Linked DNA regions of Homo sapiens. The protein of the gene in region 2 binds, or shares a complex with, the protein of the main gene of each other region. Each region holds a gene or a part of one and is shown on either strand. Other genes may lie near its edges. The genes, in order: RAB11FIP2, RAB11A, SH3BP5 and RAB3IP. A codon is read from its position in the direction of its gene.

Region 1 (4,567 bases), on a different chromosome or scaffold from region 2:
TGACTTCTGGTAGATGCTGGAGGATAAGAAGTGGTGAAAAATGCTACCGGCTGTACCAACCCTATTCTACTTTCTTCAGTACCACAAAAGGTTTTCTTACATTTCCTCTGAAAGCTTGTGCATTCCCTACCTTACAGGGTTGTTGTGAGAAATAAAATAAAGCATAAATAGGAAGTACTCAGCAGAGACCTTAGCCTATATATAAATACTCAAATATCATTTCTACTAAATCGTAAGCTCCATCCCTATGAGGGGATGTCTTATATGTAGAGGGCATCCACACATTTGTTGAAGAATGTTCACTTGTACTTAAAAACTACTCTTTTGAATGACTTTTCAGAACTATCTTCATAGTAAAATAAGTTTGTAGGTCTTACAGAATATGTGCTACAATACACCAAATAAGAGGCATCCTAGGTATTTATTAAAAAACAAGGAGGACTCATATATAAATCCATTATGGTAACACCGCTGTATCTGTAATAAATGTTGACAACTGAATTAAGTTTAAACACTTTAATCAACTATAAGTCAATAATCATATATTATATAAAAATTCTGATTCATGCATCAGATTACATAAATTATACAATTGTCACATTATACAATGCTTACATACTTTTGAATTTGTACCTGCAAAAATGTATACAAGTTATGAGAGCATTTACTTAAGAAGATAAGTGTTATACTCTTCAGTTATAAATAATGCTTCTATCTTTCAAATACCCGCTAAATATATGCATTTCTAGATCTGCAGCATTTTTTTGTACCTCAAAACACAAACCATCTGGAAGCTTCGAAGACTAACAGGCCCACATGTATCATGTATTAGACTTCAACTCCACTGTGAGAGTGCATTTTTTGATGGATAAAACAAATGGAATGAAACATCAACTCTATTTTAATGCTTGAAGAGCTTCTATACCTCTTATTAAATATATCAGAAAATGCTTCATATGCAGATTAATTAGCTAAGGTGCTACCAATTGCATATTAAATACTTCCAATGATTGCATCTGGATTATTAAAGTTCTACATCTGTGCAAATGGGGGCTTTCCATGTGTGCTGACAGACCCTTCTACATACCATCATGGCCCAGCAGCACTGTGATCCTTTCCCTTATTTCAAAGGGACCAAGTGAATGAGCATGCATCATACTTCACTTACACATACACACAAGTGACACCTACCACCTACAAGACATATGAGTACATGAACATCAAAAAAGTTTCAGCTTGATTTACAAATCCAAGGTAAATTGCTTCTTCTGAAAAGCTACAGAGGAAAATAAAAGCTCTAGTGTAACATTTACTGTAGATATATTAGACAACAGTTTTTTGTTTTTTTTTTTAGATTCTCTTTGTTAAAGAATAAGCACCCTTCCGGGGATGGTAGGCAGGGAGGCGTGGTGGTGAGGGAGTTGCTGGAGGAATAACAAGAAGAAAACAAGTCTGTCACTAATGAGCTTAGTTTTACTTAGGTTTCCATTCATGAAACCCTTTTAAATACAAGGCAACATTTTCACAGCTGGAAAATTACAACTAAATCTTGATTTACCACCAAAAGCAATAGATGTAGTTATGTATAATCTATAGATAATACTACATTCAGGGGACAATGGCAAAACTAGGCTCAATGCAGAACATAGCAGCAAAAAGCAATACTTAAAAACGTTTTTCATGAATGGGTTACATGTTGTTTTATATACAATTCTAAGATATGACCCTGGTATTCAATAAATGAAACTTGAAGCGTAAGTGGTAGGAAGGTATGTTCAATATTTTTAAAGCTGAATTTTAGAATTGGTTATAAAATAATACTGCTTTAAAAATAATAGCAGAAATAGTTTAATTATGTAACAGAAGTACATTAGCTTAAGATAGTCTTGAGATAAATATCAATTCTGTGATTTTAAAAAATCCTCTTGTTGGTAGTAGTGTTTTGGGCATGCATTCTTTAAAGCATAAAAGCAAAAATAAACTCTATAATCTAGTGTACTGTGCATTATTTAATAAGCACATATATTTTATTTCCATTTCTAAGCAACTAACAAAATACATTAGAATACCTAAAGTTATGTTTTGGAAAAATAAACTAAGGTGACCTTTTTGGCCTCTTTTTCTACAACGTGAGAAATTAAAACTACTTTGCACTTCTGCCCAAACACAGGAAACACTGATATATTTACTTGGGAACTAATTTTTACTTTTTGTTTTTAGTTTTATTATTTTGACTGATTATGAAAATATGCAATAAGTTTACTCTAGGTAATGAGTGAAAATTCACAAACATTAGAACAGCAAATTTTCAGGCAGTGATGAATGTATTAATAGATCTAGTTTTAAATATAATACTTGTCTCAGATTTAAAGATAAAAATTTTGATTGAGTTATAACCAAATCACTCATGTATGAATAAAGCTAAGCCTCAATAGCTTTTATATAGGAAAAGAATCGCTCCTTAAAAATCAATTTCCCCATAAAAAGAAGAGCAGTACTTGAACCATACTTTTAAATGAGTTCTATTTATGTAAAACATATCCCCAATACAAAACTGACATCTTGGTTCACTCTATAAACAGCAAATTTGGCCAAAGCATATTATTATAGTATCTGCAGATACTGTCATAATACTGAAAACATAGATTTTCACATTTTAAGAAGTGTATGAAAAGACTCAATAATACTACCAGACAAAAACAAATGCTGAGAATTTTGTAACATTTAGTTAATTAAAAGTGGCACCATGTTTAAAAAAAAAAAAAAAACTACCAAGACCTCAAACGGGAAAATACCATTCTACACCAGACTTTGAGGTTTATTACAGAATCTTGAGGAGAAAAAAATTGATAAAAGCTATTTTTCCTTCTCCATTTCTTAAAGCATTTAATTTTTATGAAAAAAATGTTCATAATTTCAAAATGTATGTTCTTACAGTAAAACTGAAATGCAGAAGATACAAATAACAAGGGGTTTTAGTTTACAAATACGAGCTTGGCCAAGTATTCTCTGATTCAAAATACTAAAATAAGCAAAAAAAAAAAACCCAAACTATTATATCGGCTTTTTGTTTAACTTTCAATGGAGTCTTAACAGAGATAAGTATTAGAAAAAAATGCAATTCATGGAAAGATTGGGGAATATGTAAGTCTCCATATGGACATGAATTTTCATTTTAAATTCAGAAAGACATAGATACTCTCAGTGTTTTATAGTATTTCAGACTTTAAAGGCTGAAAAATAAGCAGAAGATTAGCAATATTTTTATAACATTGCTTGTCAATTTAAATTTCAGAAAAAATTTGTACAAATCATATAAAAATAATCCATGGAAGAAATCAGTATTTTGGGGGAGTGGACTTTAAAATAGAACATAATTTTGTAATAAATCAATTCTTAAAGGGTGGATGTGGAGTAATGCATAATGTCACGCTCGTAAAGTTCTCTTCTAAAAACTCACTCTTCCTTTAGTAAGTCTTATTTTGGTTCAAGACCCAAAGGCAACCATCTGCTCTATTATTTATGTAACCTGAAACCAAGCCTAATTCTTCATTCCTGGAATCTGCCCGCTGCTTTGGGTTATCAGACACACCAGGCAATCACATACTTCCCACAATTATTTTCAGATATAACTTTATAATATTTGCTTTGCTAGTGATTTAAAGGCATGCAGAATTTCAACAAAACAAGCTATATTAGCTTATCTTCTGCTTATACCTTAAACAAACTCAAATGTTAATTAATTCAAATAAATTCATGCTGTTATGAAGTTAATGAAGTCTCCTAAAATTTGTCATTCTTTAAAAAAGGACTTGAGATCATCACTTTTGGGGAAAGAGAAAAACTTTGATGCTAGAATAATATATAGCAGCTCACTTTGAAACCAAGGTCCATGTAGTCAAGAGTGATTTGAAGCAGCTTCTCTATAACAAACCATGACAGTAGGAAGGATGACTTGTCTTGCATCAATAGAGCACACACATTTTCAAATCAAGAAATTGGTAGCCTAACTTTAGAGGCAATCAATTGTTTCTAAATGTTCTAAAAACACATGTATATATGAGGTATATGCCTATATTTTATATACAAGATACATGAATATATATATATTCATGTACATATGTGTATATAAAATATAAACTGTTTTTTTAGTAGTGTTTATAACGAGCAGTATTCCTGAAGCTAAATATTTCTACAAACTGATTTCTGAGAAACCAGCCACAGGATCAATTCTGCTTTATGAAAAATCTATTCCTGAGGAACAACTCACGTACTTCTGAAGATATTTCTGGGCCTATGGCAGATTAGTGGGTCAGTACCAGCACCTGAGTGAGTCCTAAGGAACCACTTATTCATTGAGAATCTGGCCCATTTTCAATTTAAACATTTAAATGATTTAGCTTGCTTCAAAGGTCACTCTTGATAGTCCCTGCTAATATTTACAGGTAAAACTACTCTTCACAATAAAGGAGAATATGTAATGAAACCTGATAGTGTAGTCTCTTTCAGTAACAAGTTTTTCCTTCCTTCCTTCTTTCTTTCTCTCTCTTTGTCCAATTATCAATAC
Region 2 (7,525 bases):
CCCAAATTGCTGGGATTACAGACAGGAGCCACCATGCTGGGCCAAATTTCACTTCATAAGGTTTGTCAACTTTTCTCTCTCAAAAACATTTTTGTTTTTTTTTTGGAGACAGAGTCTTGCTCTGTTGCCCAGGTTGCAGTGTGGTGGTATGATCATGGCTCATTGTAACCTTGAACTCCTCGGCTCAAGTGATCCTCCCACCTCAGCCTCCTGAGTAGCTGGGACTATAGGTACATAGGTGCCATCATGTCTGGCTAATTTCTCCATTTTTTGTAGAGATAGGGGGGGTCTCGCTAGGTTGCCTAGGCTGGTCTTGAACTCCTGGCATCAAGTGATACTCCTACCTTGGCCTCCCAGGCACAAGCCACCATGCCCCATCTAAAAATTGTATTGTGAAATAAACCTAATACTATTACAAAAGTGCATAAAACTGGTATGTAGAGTTTAACACACAGTTATAAAGGGAACAACCCTGTAAAAATCCTTTGAGTTAAGAAATAGAACACTGAGGCCGGGCGCGGTGGCTCACACCTGTAATCTCAGCACTTTGGGAGGCCGAGGTGGGTGGATCACTTGAGGTCAGGAGTTTGAGATCAGCCTGGCCAACATGGTGAAACCCTGTCTCTACAAAAATACAAAAATTAGCCCGGTGTGGTGGTGCATGCCTGTAATGCCAGCTACTCAGAAGGCTGAGGCAGGATAATCACTTGAACCTGGCAGGCAGAGGTTGCAGTGAGCCGAGTTAGTACCACTGCACTCCAGCCTGGGCGATAAAGAGAGACTCCATCTTGAAAAAAATAAGAAAAAAGAAAGAAATAGAAGAGTGATAGGTTTATTTAACAAATGGAAGCCACTATGGAAGCTTTCTGTGTCAGGCCGGTGGCCCCCAGGCTCTGCTTTATGGGATACTGACGGGAGGAACGTCTGTCCCTGGGCATTCTTCCTGAGACCTAGGGAGTGAGTTCGCTTTCTTCAAATGAGCTAGGACAGGGAGGTGAGGATCATGGCACCCTGCCCCTTTCCCATCATAGGCTCTGGCCTCGCATCTGGCTAATTCTTAAAATAATAACTCATGGTTCTCAACTTTGGTAACTATTAACATTTTGGGCCAGATAATTCTTTTTGATGGGAGTGCTATCCTGTGTGTTGTAGAACGTTTAGCAGTATCCCTGGTCTCTACTAGATACCAGTAGCACTCCCAAGTAGTGACACTAAAAATGTCTCCAGATATTATCAAATGTCTCTGGGGACCAAATTGACCCGTTGAAAATCATTGCATTTGGCCAGGTGCAGTGGCTTATTCCTGTAATCTCAGCACTTTTGGAGGCTGAGGTGGGAGGATCGCTTGAGCTCAGGAGTTCAAGAACAGCCTGGGCAAAGATGGCAAAACCCCATCTCTACAAATAATACAAAAATTAGCCAGGTGCGATGGCGCACACCTGTAGTCCCAGCTGCTTGGGAGGTGGAGGTGGAGGTGGGAGAATTGCTTGAGCCCAGCATATGGAGGTTGCCGTGAGCTGACATCGCACTACTGCACTCCAGCCTGGGTGACGCAGCAAGACCCTGACTCAAAAAAAAAGAGAAAAGAAAATCAATGCATTCATAAATATTTATTATATGCCATGCATGATATTAACAGCTATACATTGTTACTTAATTCCTTCTTCCTGTTTGTCCCCATTTTGCAGGTAAGAAACTGGGATTCAGCAGGATTAAATTATTGAAATTGACACAGCTTTAGTGAATGGCTGAGCTGAAGTATAAACACAGACTTATCAGTCCTCACTTTGTTTTTAACAAACATGTAAAGTTACCTCCCCAGATGTGGAGGGTGAGATATATTTCAGGTCTTGCTTCTCCCCCATAGTCTAAGGCTAGGCATTTCTAAATTTATAATTCCAGGCTTTTTACTAGAGAGTTCCTTTTGATTTTCTTACCAACTGTACTAGTCAGGGTTCTCTAGAGGAACAGAACTAATAGGATAGACACATATATAAAGGGCAATTTATTAAGTAGTATTAAGTCACATGATCACAAGGTCCTACAATAGGCCTTCTGCAAGCTGAGAGGCAAGGAAGCCAGTGCGAGTCTCAAAGCTGAAGAACTTGCAGTCCAATGTTCGAGGGCAGGAAACATCCAGCACGGGAGAAAGATGTAGGCTGGGAGGCTAAGCCAGTTTAGCCTTTTCATATTTTTCTGCCTGCTTTATATTCGCTGGCAGCTGATTAGATGGTGCCCACCCGGATTAAGGGTGGGTCTGCCTTTCCCAGCCCATTGACTCAACTGTTTCTGCTTTGGGAACACCCTCACAGACACAACCAGGATCAATACTTTGGATCCTTCAATTCAATCAAGCTGACACTCAGTATTAACCAACACACCATTTTTATTAGTCATGCTTGAGACTAAATTAAACATTAGTGTTCTTTTTTTTTTTTTTGAGGAGTCTTACTCTGTCACCAGGCTGGAGTGCAGTGGCGCAATCTCGGCTCTCTGCAACCTCCATCTCCTTGGTTCAAGCAATTCTCCTGCCTCAGCCTCCTGAGTAGCTGGGATTACAGGACCTTAGATAAACTTACTATCACTTTATAGCAGTAGAGAAAGCACGGAAATTGGCACTGTATTTGTTTTCTATTGCTTCTATAACAAATTACCACAAACTTGGTGACATAAAACAACACAAATTTATTGCTTAAAGTTCTGTAGGTCACAGGTCTGACAAGTGTCTCATTGGGCTAAAATCAAGTTGTCAGCAGGGCTGTGTTCCTTCTGGGGGCCTTATGGAAGAATCTGTTTCCATGCCTTTCCCAGCTTCTAGAAGCCTCCAGATTCCTAGGCTCCTGGGCCCTTTCCTCCATCTTCAAAGCCAGCAAGGGCAGATTGAGGTCTTTTCAAGTCACATCACTCTGACCTCTTCTGCCTCCATTTTCCACTTTTTTTTTTTTTTTTTTGAGAACGAGTCTCTCTCTGTTGCCCAGGCTGGAGTGCAGTGGCGTGGTATCAGCTCACTGCAACCTCCGCTTCCCGGGTTCCAGCAATTCTCATGCCTAAGCCTCCAGAGTAGCTGGGACTACAGGCACCCACCACCACGCCAGACTAATTTTTTGTATTTTAGTAGCGACAGGGTTTCACCTTGTTGGCCAGGCTGGTCTTGAACTCTTGACCTCAGGTGATCCACCCACCTTGGCCTCCCAAAGTGCTGGAATTAAGGCCTGAGCCACCGTGCCCAGCCCATTTTCTACTTTTAAGGACCTTATGACAACACTGGGCCCACCCAACTAATCCAGGATAATATCCCTAATTTAATGTCAGCTGATAAGCAACCTTAATTTCATCTGTAACCTCAATTCCCCTTTGCCATGTAACCTAACCTATTCAGTCTCCAGGAATTGGGAAGTGGACATCATTGGCAGGGGGCATTATTCTGCTTGTTATAGGCATACTTGCCCACAAGTCTAAATCGAGAGTTTGCATATAGGAGGTAGGAGGTGTGACAATAATTGGATAAAGGCTTTTCTGGAATGACAAAATTCTCTTCAAATACAGGGAGGCCCTGCGACATGATATCTGGCAAATCACTTGAGTCTTAGTATCCAAACTTCCGCTAAAATGGAAATTACCATCCTTTGCTTGGCATGTTAAATGAAATACTTATGTAAACGGACTTAGATTAGAGGCCTACAAATAGGACTCAAGTTCTTGATGAATCTTGATGAGGAGGGTGGGCGAAGTACTCTAAATGAAAATGAGATAGATTGCGAGATTTCCGGAGAGGAGTGAGTGACAAGCGCCTACCCGTGCATGAAGCTGGAGGTAGAAAATTCCAGCAAAAGGAATTTTCAAGTTTCACTGAAGCTTTTGAATCAAGGCTTGAAAGCCCAGGGTTAAAAAAAAGGCAGTGAAGAAGCTCATTAAGACAACCCCCCGCCAGGTAGCAGATAGCACCTGAAATGCAGTGGGAAATTTGTGAGGTCTTCATAGGCAAGGATTAAATTTTACATCTCCATCTTAAGATGTGTCATAGTTGTTCAATTACTTAGTGACCAAAAAAGTGAATTAAAGATGTTGTCAAGATTAAAAAAACAAAAACCAATGCAGGTTCCACCGAGATTTGAACTCGGATCGCTGGATTCAGAGTCCAGAGTGCTAACCATTACACCATGGAACCGCCACGCATGTGTAGCTGCCTTCGGCTGTCTAATCCTCAGAGAACCCCGCCCCCATCCACAAACCCACCACTCACAGGCGGTCCCGCCTGGTTCCAGCGAGCCGCTTCCGGCACGGTAGCTCGAGAAATGAGCAAGCGGCCACTAAGACTATGGTAGCTAGGAGTTCCAGGACTCAGTTTCCCCTTTGAGCCTCCTTTAGCGACTAAAGCTTGAAGCCCCACGCATCTCGACTCTCGCGCACACCGCCCTTGTTGGGCTCAGGGGCGGGGCGCCGCCCCCGGAAGTACTTCCCCTTAAAGGCTGGGGCCTGCCGGAAATGGCGCAGCGGCAGGGAGGGGCTCTTCACCCAGTCCGGCAGTTGAAGCTCGGCGCTCGGGTTACCCCTGCAGCGACGCCCCCTGGTCCCACAGATACCACTGCTGCTCCCGCCCTTTCGCTCCTCGGCCGCGCAATGGGCACCCGCGACGACGAGTACGACTACCTCTTTAAAGGTGAGGCCATGGGCTCTCGCACTCTACACAGTCCTCGTTCGGGGACCCGGGCCACTCCCGGTGGACCCTCGTGCCGGCCACCCCTGCACTGATATAGGCCTCCCTCAGCCCTTCCTTTTTGTGCGGTTCCGTCTCCTACCCAGCTCAGCCTCTTCTCCCCCGCTCAGACAGGGGTCCCCATCACATGCCGCTCTCTGAGCGACCTCTCCATAGGCCTTCGCTGGCCTCAGAGCCCCTCCCTGCGTGTCCTTCCCCTGGCGGACTGCCTTCTCCCACATCGTCGAATTCCTTTCCCCGGGTTCTACGGCCCCGCCGCTCCTCCCACCATCTCTCTTTTCGGGTGTAGCGCCCCCTCCCCCTCGGCGTACACCCTTCCCAGCTCGCGTCCTCTCCCGAAGCCCCTCTGACGGGTTCTTCGCTTCCCTCTTGGCCTTGCCTTCGGTGCAGACTCCCATTACAGGTCTTTTTCTTATCTGCCCTCTTTCCCCCCTCGAGCGAGCGTCTCTTCTGTATCTCCCCTCCACTTGGACGGCCGCCCCTCTAAGCTTCTCCCATCCCGGGTCCAGGACCCCGTAAAATCTGAGCGGGCCAAGGGCCTCCGCCCCCACCCTCCGCCCCGCGGTTCTCGCGGTCCTTAACCTTCTCTGACCGCTCCCTCTCCCACTCCCCATTTGGCAACTCTCTCTACCTTCCCTCCCCAAATCGTGTTTAGAGCTCCCTTGTCTCCGTTGCGACCTGGGTGGTGGGAGGGAGGGTAAGAGGGATCGCCCATCACCCACTCGCGCACTTGTCGCAGTGACCCGGCAGGCTGACATTACTTCCCACCTAGCCTTTTCTTTTCTTGCCCTCCCTACTCAGTGGCACCCAACCCGGGATAACTCTTTACTCGGTTCGCGAGATGAGGTTGCGGATGGGTGGTGGCTGTTATCCTTGCCAGACCTGAAGGCCTGGTTCCTGAGCAGGAAAGGTTGTGCGCTGCACAAATACTAGCTTGCTTTATCTCTATGAACTGGTTGCTTCCTGCTGCAACGCTGGGAGGATCCAACAGGAAGGGAAGAGCCCTAGTTAGCCACATACCTTTCCCAAAAGGTTGGGGGTGGGAGGAAGTTGTGTGCTCTTTTGGTTACATTAAATATTTATTATAAGATACGGAAACATGTAGTGCCCTTGGACAGAACATATTGGAGGGTCAGGGTTGGTTAGAAAGAATTGCTTATTGGTTGAGTCCGGAAGGAATCCGGTTTTTTTTTTTAATCAACGAAGATAAAGGGTACATTTTTCAATGAGAAGAGAGTACAGTAGATGCTTTTTTTGTTCAGTGAATGCACTCTCACTCTGATGCTCTTTCTCTGCTCCTGAATTGGGAAGGTAGCCATCAGTAGTGTGCCGAACAAAGATCATTACCACTGAGGAAGAAGCCATTGCTATTAAAGCTTTACTGTGGAGGGTGGAGTTTCAAGAGTGTTAAGCATGGTGACTGTTTCTGTCTTTGCCATTGGGTGCTAAGAATGATTGACTAAACCAAGCAGGAAAGATTTCTTTGCTTTCCCAATACTTTGCAAATCTTGTTATACTAACTAGTCTGCTGTTATACTCTTATCATCTCTTACTCCTCTGACTCAGAATATTCTACTGTATAGGGTGAATACTTTTGGTATCCACCCTCCCCCTCCATACTGGAAAGTACTTTCAGGGTACTTAGTTCATTTTACAAATACAAAACTGAGGCCTGGATTACAAAAAGTATATGACAGCATACCTTTTGCCGAAGGTATCTGAGATGATGTGAAACTATTTGAATCTCTTGAGACTTTGGGGTTAAAGGTTAGGTTTGTGTTTTGAAATATGGTATAATGGTAGTGTGCTTTTATAAAGGTTGTCTTTGAAGTAATTAATTCAGAACAAGATAGACCGTCAGGGTATTTCTCCTGTTTGGTTTGAACTTGAATGTTGGTTATACAAGGTCCTTTTATTTTTTAACAAAGAATATTAAATATTCTGAATTGGCCTAAAGTATTTTAACTTTTTGATTAGACCATCCTTCTAGCAACAATTGAGAGCACTGAGCTTTGGAATCACGTAGACCTCGGTTTAGATCCTGACTCAGGTCTTATATTTACTTTATGACCTTGGAAAAGTTAACTTTTCTGAGTCTCAGTTCTCTACTTTATAAAAAGGAAAATACCTGCCTCTTAAGATTGTGAGAATTAAATAATGAGACTGTTCGTAAAATTTTAACCATGAGGACTCAATAAATGGTAATAATGTGAAAGAAGTTACTGTGGTTTTGTCAGTTTTTTTTTTTTTTTTTTTTTTTTTTTTTGGAGACAGGGTCTCGCTCTGTCCCCCAGGCTGGAGTGCAGTGGCACAATCAAGGCTCACTGCAGTCTCGGCCTCCTCAGGCTCAGGTGACCCCCCGACCTCAGCCTCCCTAGCTACTCTCTAGCTCCTAGGAGTAGCTGAGACTACAGGAGCGCGCCACCACGCCCGGCTAGTTTTTTGTTTTTTTGTAAAGACAGGGTTTTGCCATGTTGCCCAGGCTGGTCTCGCACTCCTGGACTTAAGCAATCCACCTTCCTCAGCCTCCCCAAGTGCTGGGATTATAGGCGTGAGCCACTGTGCCTGGCCTTTGTCAGTTTTTTGAACCTTAAATGTAGGTTCAACTACAAGAGCATTTAAATATTATTAAAGAAAATAAAACTAGGAACTTCGAATGCATTTTATGTTTCCATGGGTTATGGTTTCATTTTGTTGTGCATTTTGCTGTTTAAGATAGGGTGTTAAAAATTCTGCTAAGGAGGATTTCTACTTTTTTTTTTTTTTTTTGAGATGGTATTTCGCTCTTGTTTCCCAGGTTGGAGTGCA
Region 3 (7,041 bases), on a different chromosome or scaffold from region 2:
AGAGGTTCAGAGACCACTGAAGACCCAACCGAGACAATTTTGAGGTCTGAAAACTCAGTAAAGCCTGTCTCTCCACTTTCCCCTTATAGCAAGTGGCCCATGTGATACTCTGCTACCCCAGAAAAGTGAAGCTTTGAGTGCAGAAAAATCTCATCAGTGACGAAGCCCAAAGCTACACATACCTCGAGCTGCACATAGTACTTTGCCTTGAGTTCAAAATAAGGCCTGCAGAAGACAGGAAGGAAAGCCATCAGAGTAATATAATACAGTGACCACAGTCAACTCCACAAGATGAACAAGAGGCATCAGCTACCACTGGCCAGGTCGTCCTTCCAATATTTAGTAAACTCTTAACAAGGCCGTGACATGTCAGTGATGCTCCTAGCTCTGGAGACTGACAGACACCAGATGGAACGACTGGGCTCACCCAGGGCTATATTAACAGGAGGCCCATCTCAAGACACGGGGAACCCACACACACATATCTTGGGGACTCTGCAACTTAGCTCATGTTCCTCCTCTGTGGGAAGGCTGTTCAGAGCCTCACAGGTTATACCCAGCAGTAAGGGTGGCCTGGATCTGCTCTCCTAATGAAGTTGGCTCCCCAGGGATGAAGAGCAGCTGAGGCTGGAGAAGGGGCTGCTTAAACCTCCTCCTCTACTGAAGTCAACTGGGGAAGAGAGAGAAGCACCACTCCTCCCTCACAGCACAGCAAGGCCACCACTAGGAGGGGGTCTCAGGTTGGTCCTCCCAAACCTTGTCCAAAGACTGGAGTTATTAGTTGGCTGACTCAGCCACATAATGGGCCCAAGAAATGCCAGCGTCCTAGCAGTTCCCTTGGTTCTGGGTCAGCTGAAAGAGCTTGGCTCTTTTTTAGGAACTTTGGTGCCTGAACATTAAGAGTAGATCACTGCTTTATTCTTGAGCTGTTCACCCTCCATGAAGCTCTCAAGTCCTGCATCCTGAGGATCCAGATGGATGACAAGGACACAGGACTGCCATTGGTGGGTATGAAAATCCTGAAATTTGGGGGGAGAGAGAGGTGTATAAGCTCTCTCGTGTGACCAAAAGGAGCACAAGGTGAAGAGTATGTGTGTGAATGGGCATCGGAGGGCACAGGGAAGATGTCCCAGCAAAAGGAACATGAGCATCCATGCAAGGGAGTGTGGCTGGAGAGGCAGGGTGGGCATGGAGGTGGCCTGGAAGCCACTCTGTGGAATGCACAGATGTACATTTTAACCTTTGGGCAGACAGGAGCCACCCAAGACTACGATCTATCCCTGTACTCTTCTCGGAGTCTGAAAAGGTTGGCAAAGTACAATCACAAGATTTATTTTCTTAAACAGGTTAATGGATGAGTATGTGATGTGTGTGCAGTGTGAATTCGGGGTCTTTTGAGAAAAGACCCACCATATTCACACCAAAGGAAGCAGCATCAAAGGCTGCTCCTCGGCCTCCTTGGGTGTTGGCATGTGGATGATGCCTGGGCTTGCCCAGAGCAGGCACAGGTCCTACAACAACCCTCGCCACCTCCTGCCTCCCCTGCAGAAAAATGCCATATACACGTCTACTACTTAGCTCTCAGGAGATCAGCCCCTGACACACCAAAAACCAAACCAAAACAAAAATACACTAGTCAATTAAGTGCAATAGTAAATGGTTAAATGGTGTTCCTCTGCATGTATGTGTACATATGTATGTTGGAAGAGTGTGAGCAGAAACTAAAGAAAAGTCAAGCCTGGGTGAAGGTACTGGGGGGTAGTACAGAGCCTAGGAGGACCAAACTCTTCCTTGCAGATCCTCTTCCTCACTGAATTGTCACCTTTCCCTCACTTGCATGAGGACTGGGCATCTGCCAAGCTTCCAACTGCCCAGCCCCTCCTGGCTGGGGCTGTGACCACACCTGGAGAACAGGCATTCAGTAGCCCTGCACAGCCTGCTCTGGGTCTATCTTTGGCTGTTAAGTCTAGGTCATCATAAGTCCTCCTCCTTTTGCTAGGAGGCCTAGCAATTGGGAATGAAGCAGGGGGCTTGTCCCCAAGAGAGGGTACACAGTTGTGCCTGCCCACCATTATCAATGTTGTATAAAAATATACAGGGCTGTAGTGAGAAGAGATTGGAGAAAAAAAAAAAAACTCTACTAAAGCCAGTCTTACAGCATTTTATCAGCTCTTGATCACAGGAAACATGTATTGTGAACACAACTCATCCCTATTACACTGACAGATAAATTGAGGGATAGGGCCTTGACAACACTGTCAACCACAGATCCCAGAGTACAGCGTGAATTTACCAAATCCCAGCCAATGGGCCATTTAATAATGTGCCTTTGAAATTCCTTTTTCTGTGTTTCCTAACTTAGTCATATCTAGAGCAGCCCACCCCTTAGCATCCTCTGCTTCTGGGGGTCATAGAATATTAGGGGGAAAGAGAGCCTGAGCAGGGGGGCTCTGGTGAGGCCCCAGGGTCTACATCAAAGGACTACTCAGGGTGGTCCTTGAGTGTGTGACATACAAAAGGCTGAGAAGATGCAGACTAGGACAGCCGCACGGCCCCAGGGAAGGCCCTGTCCAGACTTACTTGGACTTGTTGATGGCTCTCTTGAGTTTCTTCTCCAGCTGTCGCATGCGGCCCATGGCGGCATTGTACCTGGCTGCCGTCTCCTTATGCACCAGCTCGCTCCTGGTCTTGGTCTGCTCCGCCTCCATGACCTTAAAATGACAGCAGAGTTCAGCCCAGTCCAGCCCAGAACAGCCCAGGCTTGGAATATTACTTATATTATTTTTCAAAAAATATTCTTTGCCCGGGCATGGTGACACATGTGTAATCCCAGCACTTTGGGAGGCCAAGGTGGGTGGATCACGAGGTCAGGAGATCGGGACCATCCTAGCCAACATGGTGAAACCCGTCACTGCTAAAAATACAAAAATCAGCCGGGCCTGGTGGTGTGCTCCTGTAGTCCCAGCTACTCAGGAGGCTAAGGCAGGAGAATCACTTGAACCCGGAGGCAGAGGTTGCAGTGAGCCAAGATCGTGCCACTGCACTCCAGCCTGGGCGACAGAGTGAGACTCTGTCTCAAAAATAAAAATACTCTTTGGGCCAGGCACGGTGGCTCACACCTGTAATCACAGTCCTTTGGGAGGCTGAGGTGGGTGGATCGCCTAAGGTCAGGAGTTTGAGACCAGCCTGGCCAACATGGCAAAACCCCGTCTCTACTAAAAATATAAACATTTGCCAGGCATGGTGGCACATGCCTGTAGTCCCAGCTACTTGAAAGGCTGAGGCAGGAGAATCACCTGAACCCAGGAGATGAAGGTTGCAGTAAGCCGAGATCACGCCACTGCACTCCATCCTGGGCAGCACAGCAAGACTCCATCTCAAAATATATATGTATATATAGATATCTATATCTAGATATATATTTGAGCAAATTAGTGGTCAGACTAAGAATAAACCAACTTCCCAACAGTGGTTTTCTTTTCCTATTTATCTATTTTGAAAAAGCCTTGTGAGGAAAGATTAAATAGCTAAATTGGCTGTGGCAATGACTGAGAAAGAAAATGGAAAAACAAAAACCAGAAAATTTTGAACTATTTTCTGATTCAACAGCTGTCCACTTTCTTCTCAGGTTCCTCGATCTAAGTAGCCACCTAGACCTCCTCCCGTTCACACCTTGGGGCAGGGGCCTGATGGGCAGGCAAATGGCCAAATAGCAGCAGTGGGAACCTAAGAGATGGGGAACCTAATGGGGAGACCACCAAAACCAAGAACTAGGCATCGTGCCAGGCACGATGGCAGTCAAGCCAGCAAAGCAGCCATGACTTCCATTGTTTGGTCCTTTCCCAAATATTCTGAACTAGTTGGCTGTGCACAGAAGAACTCAGGATCCAGAAAGGGCAAACTTTACATTTAAGCAATTAAATTAAAACCCAGTCATTCACATCAGATTTTGAGGTACACAAACATTTGTGAGCAGAAGACAAGTCAAAGTTCTGGTGGGAAATTCTGGTGGGAACACTTTGTTAAGTCTGTTGAAAAAAATGAGTTACAAAACCAATACTCAAGGGCCCTCAATGGCCAAAAAACAAAAGCAGCTCACAGGCCCAGTCCCAGAGACATGGGCAATGTTAATTCTCTCCTTGCTTACCTACAGAAAAGCATCAGAACAAGGCCTGCCTTGAAGAAAGAGGAGGGAAACAAACCGCAGTTCAGGCCACATAAGCAGCTTGCGATTTCTTTCCCTGTCTTCTGCCTACCACTCAGTGTTATAAAATAAACCGGAGAGACAGTAGAGGTTAGGCTAAAGGGTTATTCTCTAATTCTGTATTCTCTGGGGAGCATCCGAGAGGAGCCCAGAGGGCTCATGGTCACTAGTCAGCTCTCTCAGACCCCGTAGAACAATTTTAGGGAGGTACCACCATGTCTTTAGTTCACAGTTAAAAAAGAAGGCCACAGAGGAAGGTTGCCAATGTTCTACCATCTCCTCCAGTCAACAGCCACAATCAGCCCTAGGATAGTTTACTTATTACTTACGATAAGGATTTTTAAAGGTACCATGAAAAATTATGAAAGACTTTTATATGGGCATTAAAAATTACAGGGTGTCCTGTCTAGGGCACCCTTCCAGGCTATCTCTGACTTTGTCTTGAAGCTGTTTTACAACCCTGTAAGTTGTAGAAAACTGACAGTAATACAAATGGTTTTTTTTTTTTTCCAGAGAAATGAAGATGAACTGTGTCACAGATGCAGTGGATTACTGACTGCCCTTGTAATAGTCCATTTTGCATCTGTTGGTAATTCATTGAGGCACTCTTGGTTTTCTATGAGTTTGTATTTTTTGAATTCAAGAATTGTAACATCACTGTTAGATCCCTCCTTATTTAATGAGAGAAATAAAATATTTGACACGAGAAAATTTTATATTTGTATCCCAATTATGCTTTTACCTTCTTAAAAATATCTTTTAACAAAGGCTTCAGTGCTTCAGATAATTTTTAAAAACAGAAAAACAACAAAATCAGAGAAGAAAAATAGGAGAGAACTGAGCTAAGCTGGCACGAGGAGACATGCTTGCTCACATGACTTCTCAACCAAGACCAAAGGGCTAAGAGAATCCTTTCCCTTTGCTTCCAAAACCAGATATTTCACAAGGAAACAAAATGCACTAAAAATATCTCATGCTTGATACTTGGGGAAACAGCAGTAAATCTTAAGCTTTAAGGATTTACTGGTATAACCTTTATGAAAACTCAAACCTTCAGGTTCATCAAAGACAACATGTTGGGGGTGATTGTTTTATTACAAAAAGATCCAATTAAAGGTTTACCTTTAAGGAGCTGTCAGAATGCATTTTCAACAGACTTGTAGAACCTGTAATTTGAGGGTCCTGTACAGAAAGAGTCCCCTGTAAGAAGCAGGATTCTCACCATCTGCACACAGGCCCTCATTCTATCTTGGCCTCTAGGCTGCAAGCAGAAGCACAGGCTTTCTACAATAAAACACTTGGAAAGCTCCGAGCCCATGGCAATACTGGCAGTGAAAACTGAAGAAGTGGCCAGCACATCACTGTCCCCTGCTTCGCCCCACCAGGCCACGTCTACCACATCCTGTCCCTATCTCCCCACTTCTCATATATATACAAAACCTCCAGGGCAGCCAGGTGCGATGGGGCTCATGCCTGTAATCCCAGCACTTTGGGAGGCCAAGGCGGGCAGATCACTTGAGGTCAGGAGTTCAAGACCAACCTGGCCAACATGGTGAAACCACGTCTCTACTAAAAATACAAAAATTAGCTGGGTGTGGTGGTTGGTGCCTGTAGTCCCAGCTCCTCAGGAGGCTGAGGCAGGAGAAAAGCTTGAACCTGGGAGGTGGAGGTTGCAATGAGCCAAGATCGCGCCGCTGCACTCCAGCCTGAGCTACAGGGCGAGACTCCGTCACACACACACACACACACACACACACACACACACACACACACACACAACCCTCCAGCTCCTGGAAGAGACCTCCACACAACTCAGCTTCCTGCCTTGAGGAAGAAGGTCACTAAGCATGTCGCCTTGGTTATGTCTCCTAGGTAATCAAGGAGCTCCTCTATCTACAGCCTAGCATCAGGCATGAGCTGTGTGCAGTGATGTGGGTCAGGTGTGGTGGGATAAGTAAGGAGGAGAGCGGCTCAGGGGTAGGTGTGGCAAACTGCACCCCATACTCCGGAGCAGCATACTCCGGAGATGCTGAAGATCCAGGGACCACAGAGATACTGCTCAGCCCCGGACCCTGCTCATATCAGCCCACAGAAAATAGCAAACACCCGGCACCTTCCCGCATGGGCACCACTGGGCACTGATTGGGTGTTTCAATCTGGCTTGGCCAGCCTCTTCGCGGGGTCCCACACCAGCAGAATGGCCCAACCGGCTTAGTAGACATCCACCAGGCACAGCTCCTCAGCCTCCTGTTACAGCTTTCTCGACTCTCCAATCTCCAGGGCCTTTGCACCCTCAGTTACACTCCCAACATCTCTTCCAACATCACAGAGGGGCGGTCAGGAGCCTCTTTGCCCAGGGAGGCAATCTCACTGTCTGCTGAGAACCTCCATTCTGACTGTTTCAGACTGTTTCCTGATTCTTACTGCGTCCTTGGGCAATGAGACCTAAGAAGGCGCTTCTTCCCACTGTGTGGAAGGGAGGCGGTTCACACCCACCAACGTCAGGGAGGCTGTCGTGAGCAGCTCCTCACCTGCCATCCCAGGCTCATATCCACTGTGAACCAGGAGAAGGGCTGGCCCTGCGTCGTGTCCTCTCCAGCAGCCACCTGGGGCTAGTTCAGAAACAGTTCGTGCCTCTCATTTCCAAGTCACATTTCCCTCTTCCTCTGTCTGAGCTCTTTCAGCAGACATCAGAAAAGCCAATTTCTCCCTCCCAGGATGCCAGCCCTCCTCTCTCAGAGGATGAAAAGCTATCACCTTCCCATAAAGGCTACTTCAGTGCCAAAACAGCTGAGGCTGAAGGGGTCCTATGCTGCCCAAGCTCCCCAGCTGGAGAG
Region 4 (7,041 bases), on a different chromosome or scaffold from region 2:
GATCTACCTGCCTCAGCCTCCCAAAGTGCTGGGATTACAGGCGTGAGCCACTATGCCCAGCCCCAAAGTAATCTTGAGCAAGAAAAATAAAGCTGGATGCATCACACTTCCTGATTTCAAAGTACATGACAAAGTTACAGCAGTAAAAACAGTATGGCACTGATATAAAAACAGACATGTGGACCAATAGAAGAGAATAGAGAGCCCAGAAATGACACATTTTTGGTTAGCTGACCCTCAACAAAAATGCTAAGGACACCTAGTGGGGAGTAGATAGTCTTATCAATAAATGCTGCTGAGAAAATTGGATATCCACATGCAAATGAACGAAATTAGACCCTGATCTCACACCATAAAGAAAAATCAATTCAAATGGATTAAAGACTTACACATAAGACCTGAAACTGTAAACTCAGAAGAAACAAGGAAAAAGCTTCTTGACATTGGTCTGGGCAGTGATTTTTTTGGATGTGACACCAAAAGCACAGGCAACAAAAACAAAATGGACAAGTGGGAGTACATCAAACTAAAAAGCTTCTGCCCAGCAAAAAACAGTCAACAAAATGAAGAAGCGGCATACTGAATGGGAAAACATTTGCAAACCGTGTATCTGATAAGGAGTTAATATCCAAAGTATATAAGGCATGCAGTAGCAAAAAACAACCCAATTGAAAGATGGGCTAGGGGCCTAAATAGACATTTCTCCTAAGAAGACATACAAATGGCCAACCGGTATATGATAAGATACCCAGCATCAGTAATCATCAGGTAAATGCCAGTCACTCCCCAATGAGATAGCACCCCACACTGGTTAGAATGGCTATTATCAAAATACAAAAGATAGTAAATGTTGGCAAGGATGTGGAGAAAAGGAACTTGTCCACTATTGGTGGGAATGTAAATTGGTACAGCCATTATGGAAAACAGTATGGAAGTTTCTGCTCAAAAAATTAAAAATAAAGCTACCGCATGATCCAGCAATCCCACTTCCAGATATATATCCAAAAGAAAATTGCTATCCTGATGAGTTATCTGTGCTTCCATGTTCATTGCAGCATTATTCACAGTAGCAAAGTTATGGAAACAAGTTATATGTCTATTGATGAATGGATAAAGAAAATGTGGGGGGTATGTGTGTGTATATGAATACTACTCAGTCTTAAAATGGAAATCCTGCCTTTTGCAACAACATGAGCGAACCTGGAGGACATTTTGCTAAGTGAAATAAGCAAGACAGAAAGACAAATGCTACATTATCTCACTTATATGTGGAATCTAAAATAGTCGAGCTCATAGAAGCACAGAGTAGATTGGTGGTTGTCAGGGGCTGGAAAGTGGGAGAAACGGGAGATGTCGGTCATTGGTACAAAGTGTCAGTTATGCAGGATAGATAAATTCTGAAGACCCAATGTACAGCACGACTATATCGTATGTTACAAATTTGCTAAGAAGGTAGATCTTGTTTGCGCACCACCTCCCCTCCAAAAAAAAGGTAACTGAGAGGTGCTGGATATGCTAAAAGAAAAACAAAATGATATGTATATTTCAGTGTTCATAAATATTTATTAAAACAGCCACACTAATTTGTGTATTGTCTATGGCTGCTTTCATATTGCAACAGCAGAGCTGAGGAGTTGCAGCTGAGGCTGTATATGTATACATAGTGTTTGACTCTTTACAGAAAAAGTTTACCGACTCCTGGTATAGGTGATACTTACATCATTTTCAGCTTTGGAAGGGCAGTGTGATGGAAAATTTTCAAACTTTTTTTGAGTCTACCTTTTGATGTTTTTTGTCAATTTTTAAAAAATTCTGTAAAAATTCTGCATGTCATCTTTTTAGCAACTGATCCTGCCCCAGTCTAGTGCTCATCTTTCCTTTTGGGGCTCCAATTATATGTATGTTATACCTTTTCACTGTAACCCTTATGTCTGTAGTGGAAAAGTCACCTAAAATTTCACATTACTCTAAGTTTACTTCACTATTTTGTTCTCAGATACCTTCAAACATATTTTAAAAACAAACAAAAAACTTTTCTAGCTTTTCTAATCGTTCTCCGTTGGAGGTTTGGTACAAATTGCATAATCCACTATTAATGAAAACAGAGTCCATTTCCAAAAATTTAGTCAACTATTCTCTCCATAGTATGAATTACTTTTTCATTTAAAGTTAAAATGTTACTTATCTTGAAGGGTCAGATTAGCTGTGTTTATTATTTTTAAAACATTGCCAGATAGTTTTGTGTTGACAGCCACTTGTCCCAGAAAAATTCAGCAAATCTGAAACATTTGTTATTTTTAAAAGGAGAATATTTAACTCATTAAATTTGACAGCTCTTAAGGACTTTGCCAAGATAGCCAGAATAATAGTGCATGGAATATCTTCATGGTTAATATCATTTTGCTATAAATCATTGATAGTAAAGATTCTCCTATTTAAACTAGTATAAGCTGCAAATTCACATTCATGGGCACACACAAACTGCAGTGTTACAATACTGTAAAAGCTAATGAACAAACGGGAAACAAACAGTCAAACTCTGATGTAAAGAACTTCCACCTTTCCATTCTACCACTGTGCATTTTGACAGATCTAGTGAGGGTGCCATTGTCAAACTATTCATTAAATATCTTTGAAGCTCATTTCCTTCCTTCCTCTGATAAATTGTAAACTAAAGTTCTAAAATGTAAGTTCTTAAATCTCGGGGCACTATCTCAAGCACCCTATATATGCTTCCAGTCCATTCTTAATCCCTTACAGGGATTATTCTATACAAGGGCATAATCTTTTAAAAATAAAATGATCATGTCTTCCTTAAAAAAACTGTAAGGCTTCATATTGCATTTAGAATAAAACCCACAATTCTTATTCCGATGTTTTATTTGGTTAATACATATAAACAGAATGTAAGCTCCTTAAGAGCAGGGACTTTGTCCTTTCCCAGTACGTAATCAGCATCTGGAGCAGTACCTCACAAGGAGATGACATGAGTAAATGTCTCATGAATAAACATTATATGAATAAAAAGGAATTAAATACCTAGAGTTTCATATTTGTGGTACTAGAAGATTAAAACTCTATTAAAGGGTAAACTGATTTGCCTTTTTAGGTTGCTCTTCACAAAATTGTCACATAATAAAATTTTGGGAATGTTTTTATTGAAAGCTCTAAGGCTTCTTAGCTGTCATTACTATAAACTGCAACATTATTGGTGTGTTAATGTTTTTACTTGTCCCTCCTGTATGTCTTTGCTTTGACTAATAAGAACATATATAGTGACCACATTATAAAAAGCTGACTGCAAAGGAGTTGGCTTTGACACATTGGTCATTGTTTGCCTTCGTCACATTCACAGTCCTTACGCAAGTATCTATCCGGATGATTGATCTCAACTTGGCTGCCTCAGTGGTAATAGGTCCTAAAAGAAGGCACCTATTCCTAATGTCTCATAGTTTGTCTCTGTTGTCAACTGCTGCTTCCATAGTTGACATTGAATACTTAACTTCAGGCTAACTTTTGGTAGTATATCTTTGCTTCAATTGTAAACATTTGGCAAGAACTTTTTGAAAACAAATGCTACTTTGTTTCTAAAATTTGAGATGTTAACTTTTTCAGGAAGCTCATAAAATGGTGAGAGAAGCAAATATCAAGCAGGCAACAGCAGAAAAACAGCTAAAAGAAGCACAAGGAAAAGTGAGTTTTTGCAGCTCTTAATAGTATAAAATAAATTTGTGATAACTGTTTTAAAGATACCTTAACATCTGTTGGATTTTGTTCTGATCGTAAAGTAGTGCTTGTTTTCAATTTGGAAACTACAGAAAAATAGAAGAAAATAGCTACTATGTAGGTATAATTAATAGTAAACATTTCGTGTCCATTTATATGAGAACCAAATGATTTAAAACCTTGTAAATCACATGAATTATCCAAAGGATTATAGAATCACATTTTAATGTTAATACTTAGTTTTTAAATTCACTGAGAAAAGCCACCTAAATGTTATTAGATTTTACTGTTTTAGGAGTGAACTTCTACAACTAATCATAAGCTATTATATTTTGAGGATTTTGAAAATTCACATAAATGTTAGATATTTTGGTAATTTTCACAGGCTCATTTGACGTTGTTAATAATAGATGAATCCAAACCATATGGAAACATCAAAAAACTTGATTTTAGTTTCTTTTTATTACTCCACAGGAAATACAAATTAAACTTACTTTTCATCTTTGAAAGTGTTTTGACCAGATTGCTAATATTTAGCTGCATATGTCATGAAACGTATTTAATGTATGTGACTATGTTGATTTCTTTCCAAGATTGATGTACTTCAAGCTGAAGTAGCTGCATTGAAGACACTTGTATTGTCCAGTTCTCCAACATCACCTACGCAGGAGCCTTTGCCAGGTGGAAAGACACCTTTTAAAAAGGGGCATACAAGAAATAAAAGCACAAGCAGTGCTATGAGTGGCAGTCATCAGGACCTCAGTGTGATACAGCCAATTGTAAAAGACTGCAAAGAGGTAACTCATCAAGGACTGTCCCCTCTGACTCTGTTGATACTTGTTAGTTCTCATCACTGAGGTGTCAGTTATCATTTTTGCCAGCAAAATTTTTAGTACAAAATAATGCAGTATTAAGATGGGGGAGGCTTTATCTAGAGCTGGCTGCTTTCAGGGATTCTTCAGTTCCATTTTCTACCTGGCTGACCTTGGAGTACCTGCTGGAAACTTGGTAAGTTTCTTAATCTCAGTATTTCATTAAGGGAGGAAACTGTCATGTGTTGTCTAGAGGAGAGTGGGTGGCTTTAATGATCTGGCTAGTCAAAATTTATTGCTAGAGTGCGCTTACAAAGTATGGATATAAGAAATATGTGAAAATAAGATGATTTTCTTAAAGATCAATACATTGCTTTTATTTAAATTCAGAGAGAATTTTATGTCAGCAAGGGAGTCCTAGAGTTAATTTAGATAATTAAGCAACAAAAAAATAGAAATAATGGTAGCCTTACAATGACATAAGGCTGGAAGACATTTTGCTAAGTGAAATTTCAAGTTATAGTAGAACAATTAGTGTCATTTTTGATCCCAAATTAGGTTTCACAGTTCAGCCAGTCTGTTATTCAGACACTTACAACTATGTAAGGCCACCATTATCATGTATCCATAACAATTAAAAATTTAAAAACGAAATAATGGGCCGGGCATGGTGGCTCATGCCTGTAATCTCAGCACTTTGGGAGGCCAAGGCCGGAGGATCACCTGAGGTTGGGAGTTCGAGACCAGCCTGACCAACATGGAGAAACCCTATCTGTACTAAAAATATAAAATTAGCTGGGCATGGTATCTCATGCTTATAATCCCAGCTACTCAGGAGGCTGAGGCAGGAGAATCCCTTGAACCTGGGAGGCGGAGGTTGCGGTCAGCTGAGATTGCGCCATCACACTCCAGCCTGGGCAACAAGAGCGAAACTCTGTCTCAAAATCATAATAATAATAATAGTCTTATTTTAAAAGATATGTTACAAAGATAACTGAAATAATATATAAATATTTTGAGCTGTTTAGAGTAAAAATTTTTAATCATTGTATACTGTGAGAATGCATTTCTAAGAGGATTGATCAATAATTTATGAAGCTTTCCCATTTCTTCTTAGAAGCCATCTTTTACATTGTTAAATTCAAGTCCATCATTAATCTTGAAGAAATGTGTGTGCTTGTTAAATTTTTGTATGGAAGCCAGGAGTTTATTAAATGGAATAACCAATGTTAACCTGTTTTAATTGAATTGCATTTTGACGAATTATCAATAAAAATGATGCTGGTAAGAGAGAAGTTCAATACTTGGTTAAATCTGAATGTAACCAAATCCAAAATTCACATTGGTTTCTGTTAAATATTTAAGAAACTTCTTTGTCCTAACTTTAATTCTAATTCTTTGGAATTTAAATAGCAATTTTAATTGCCTGGTACAACTTGTATTTTTGGTGTTTCTTACTCAGTATGTGTAAGTAATTATGTACTTTCCCCCCTATTTACACTAACAAAATTATAAGTGTCTTCTCATGGAACATGGTAAAGATTCATTTTTAGTTTTTGAAATCCCTTAAAATGTGCATAGGCAGCATATAACTTCAAAATAATAACCTTTGCTCTTCAGGTACGTGTTATAGTCTGATGTTTCATGAAAAACTTGTCAAAAAGTCTTACTAGGCAAAGGAATTACATAAATTTGACCTGTGTAAGTCTTAGAAAAATATGTAACAATCTGGAAGAAAATTAAGCATGTCCGTGTTTTTGTAGAAAATATGATGGGGCACTCAGTTATGACATTAGCAACATGTCTTCTGTAAACATTTAAAATACACATGCATGCATGCAGACATACATGCCCAGTGCAAGGCTTTGGGATCAAGCCACTTAGATTTGAATTCGGACTTTACTGCTTTCTTGCTATGCAATCTCCGGCAAATTACAAATGGCAATCATAATATCTGTCTTGCACAGTTGTGAGGATTAAATGCTTGTAAAGTGCTTACGGTGGTTCCTGGCAGAGTCAGCTCTTAATAAATGGTTTAAATTACAGCCTTTAAACTAGAATCTTTCCTTAGAATACCACTTACCTGCTTTGGGGTTTATGTCCTTTTTCTTTTCTTTCTTTTTTTTTTTTTTTTTTTTTTTAATAAATTTGCATCTTTCTTTTTTTTTTAATTATTGTTATACTTTAAGTTTTAGGGTACATGTGCACAATGTGCAGGTTAGTTACAGATGTATACATGTGCCATGCTGGTGCCCTGCACCCACTAACTCGTCATCTAGCATTAGGTATATCTCCCAATGCTATCCCTACCCCATCCCCCCACCCCACAACAGTCCCCAGAGTGTGATGTTCCCCTTCCTGTGTCCATGTGTTCTCCTTGTTCAATTCCCACCTATGAGTGAGAATATATGGTGTTTGGTTTTTTGTTCTTGCGATAGTTTACTGAGAATGATGATTTCCAGTTTCATCCATGTCCCTACAAAGGACATGAACTCATCATTTT

Evidence for each region.
Region 1: the proteins of RAB11A (region 2) and RAB11FIP2 are in contact, whole or in part, in a crystal structure (PDB 2GZD), measured with the Homo sapiens proteins. Residues at the interface, in NP_004654.1 of Homo sapiens: Arg33, Ile44, Gly45, Val46, Glu47, Phe48, Ala49, Thr50, Lys61, Trp65, Arg72, Arg74, Ala75, Ile76, Ala79, Tyr80, Arg82; in NP_055719.1 of Homo sapiens: Glu478, Ile481, Asp482, Asn483, Leu485, Val486, Met489, Glu490, Pro493, Ser494, Leu496, Arg497, Val498.
Region 3: the proteins of RAB11A (region 2) and SH3BP5 are in contact, whole or in part, in a crystal structure (PDB 6IXV), measured with the Homo sapiens proteins. Residues at the interface, in NP_004654.1 of Homo sapiens: Tyr8 (codon at 4,642), Asp9 (codon at 4,645), Tyr10 (codon at 4,648), Leu11 (codon at 4,651), Lys13 (codon at 4,657), Glu35, Phe36, Asn37, Leu38, Glu39, Ser40, Ser42, Thr43, Ile44, Phe48, Lys58, Gln63, Trp65, Tyr73, Ile76, Ala79, Arg82, Gly83; in NP_004835.2 of Homo sapiens: Asp42, Ile45, Gln46, Leu49, Glu50, Asn53, Thr56, Ile59, Asn60, Glu63, Thr64, Glu67, Lys240, Tyr243, Leu247, Leu250, Glu251, Ile253, Ser254, Asp255, Ile257, His258, Arg261.
Region 4: the proteins of RAB11A (region 2) and RAB3IP are in contact, whole or in part, in a crystal structure (PDB 4UJ5), measured with the Homo sapiens proteins. Residues at the interface, in NP_004654.1 of Homo sapiens: Phe36, Leu38, Glu39, Asp127, Leu128, Arg129, His130, Leu131, Arg132, Ala133, Pro135, Thr136, Leu156; in NP_783322.1 of Homo sapiens: Asn367, Thr368, Leu369, Ser370, Ile371, Glu372, Pro373, Asp412, Arg424, Thr428, Cys431, Asn432, Thr435, Tyr439, Leu444, Val445, Lys446, Gln447, Gln448.

Annotation. Positions count from the first base shown.
Region 1 is NC_000010.11:118,004,415-118,008,981, forward strand, and holds the end of RAB11FIP2 (rab11 family-interacting protein 2), read right to left. Parts: 3' UTR 502-4,567; downstream 1-501. UniProt on the Homo sapiens protein: A Rab11 effector binding preferentially phosphatidylinositol 3,4,5-trisphosphate (PtdInsP3) and phosphatidic acid (PA) and acting in the regulation of the transport of vesicles from the endosomal recycling compartment (ERC) to the plasma membrane.
Region 2 is NC_000015.10:65,864,966-65,872,490, forward strand, and holds the start of RAB11A (ras-related protein Rab-11A), read left to right. Parts: upstream 1-4,525; 5' UTR 4,526-4,620; coding exon 4,621-4,660; intron 4,661-7,525. UniProt on the Homo sapiens protein: The small GTPases Rab are key regulators of intracellular membrane trafficking, from the formation of transport vesicles to their fusion with membranes.
Region 3 is NC_000003.12:15,259,579-15,266,619, forward strand, and holds part of SH3BP5 (SH3 domain-binding protein 5), read right to left. Parts: intron 4,921-7,041; exon of another isoform or gene 4,718-4,920; intron 2,712-4,717; coding exon 2,581-2,711; intron 1,005-2,580; exon of another isoform or gene 226-1,004; coding exon 183-225; exon of another isoform or gene 1-182. UniProt on the Homo sapiens protein: Functions as a guanine nucleotide exchange factor (GEF) with specificity for RAB11A and RAB25. Inhibits the auto- and transphosphorylation activity of BTK. Plays a negative regulatory role in BTK-related cytoplasmic signaling in B-cells.
Region 4 is NC_000012.12:69,790,822-69,797,862, forward strand, and holds part of RAB3IP (rab-3A-interacting protein isoform alpha 1), read left to right. Parts: intron 1-3,615; coding exon 3,616-3,693; intron 3,694-4,319; coding exon 4,320-4,523; intron 4,524-5,655; coding exon of another isoform or gene 5,656-5,781; exon of another isoform or gene 5,782-5,822; intron 5,823-7,041. UniProt on the Homo sapiens protein: Guanine nucleotide exchange factor (GEF) which may activate RAB8A and RAB8B. Promotes the exchange of GDP to GTP, converting inactive GDP-bound Rab proteins into their active GTP-bound form.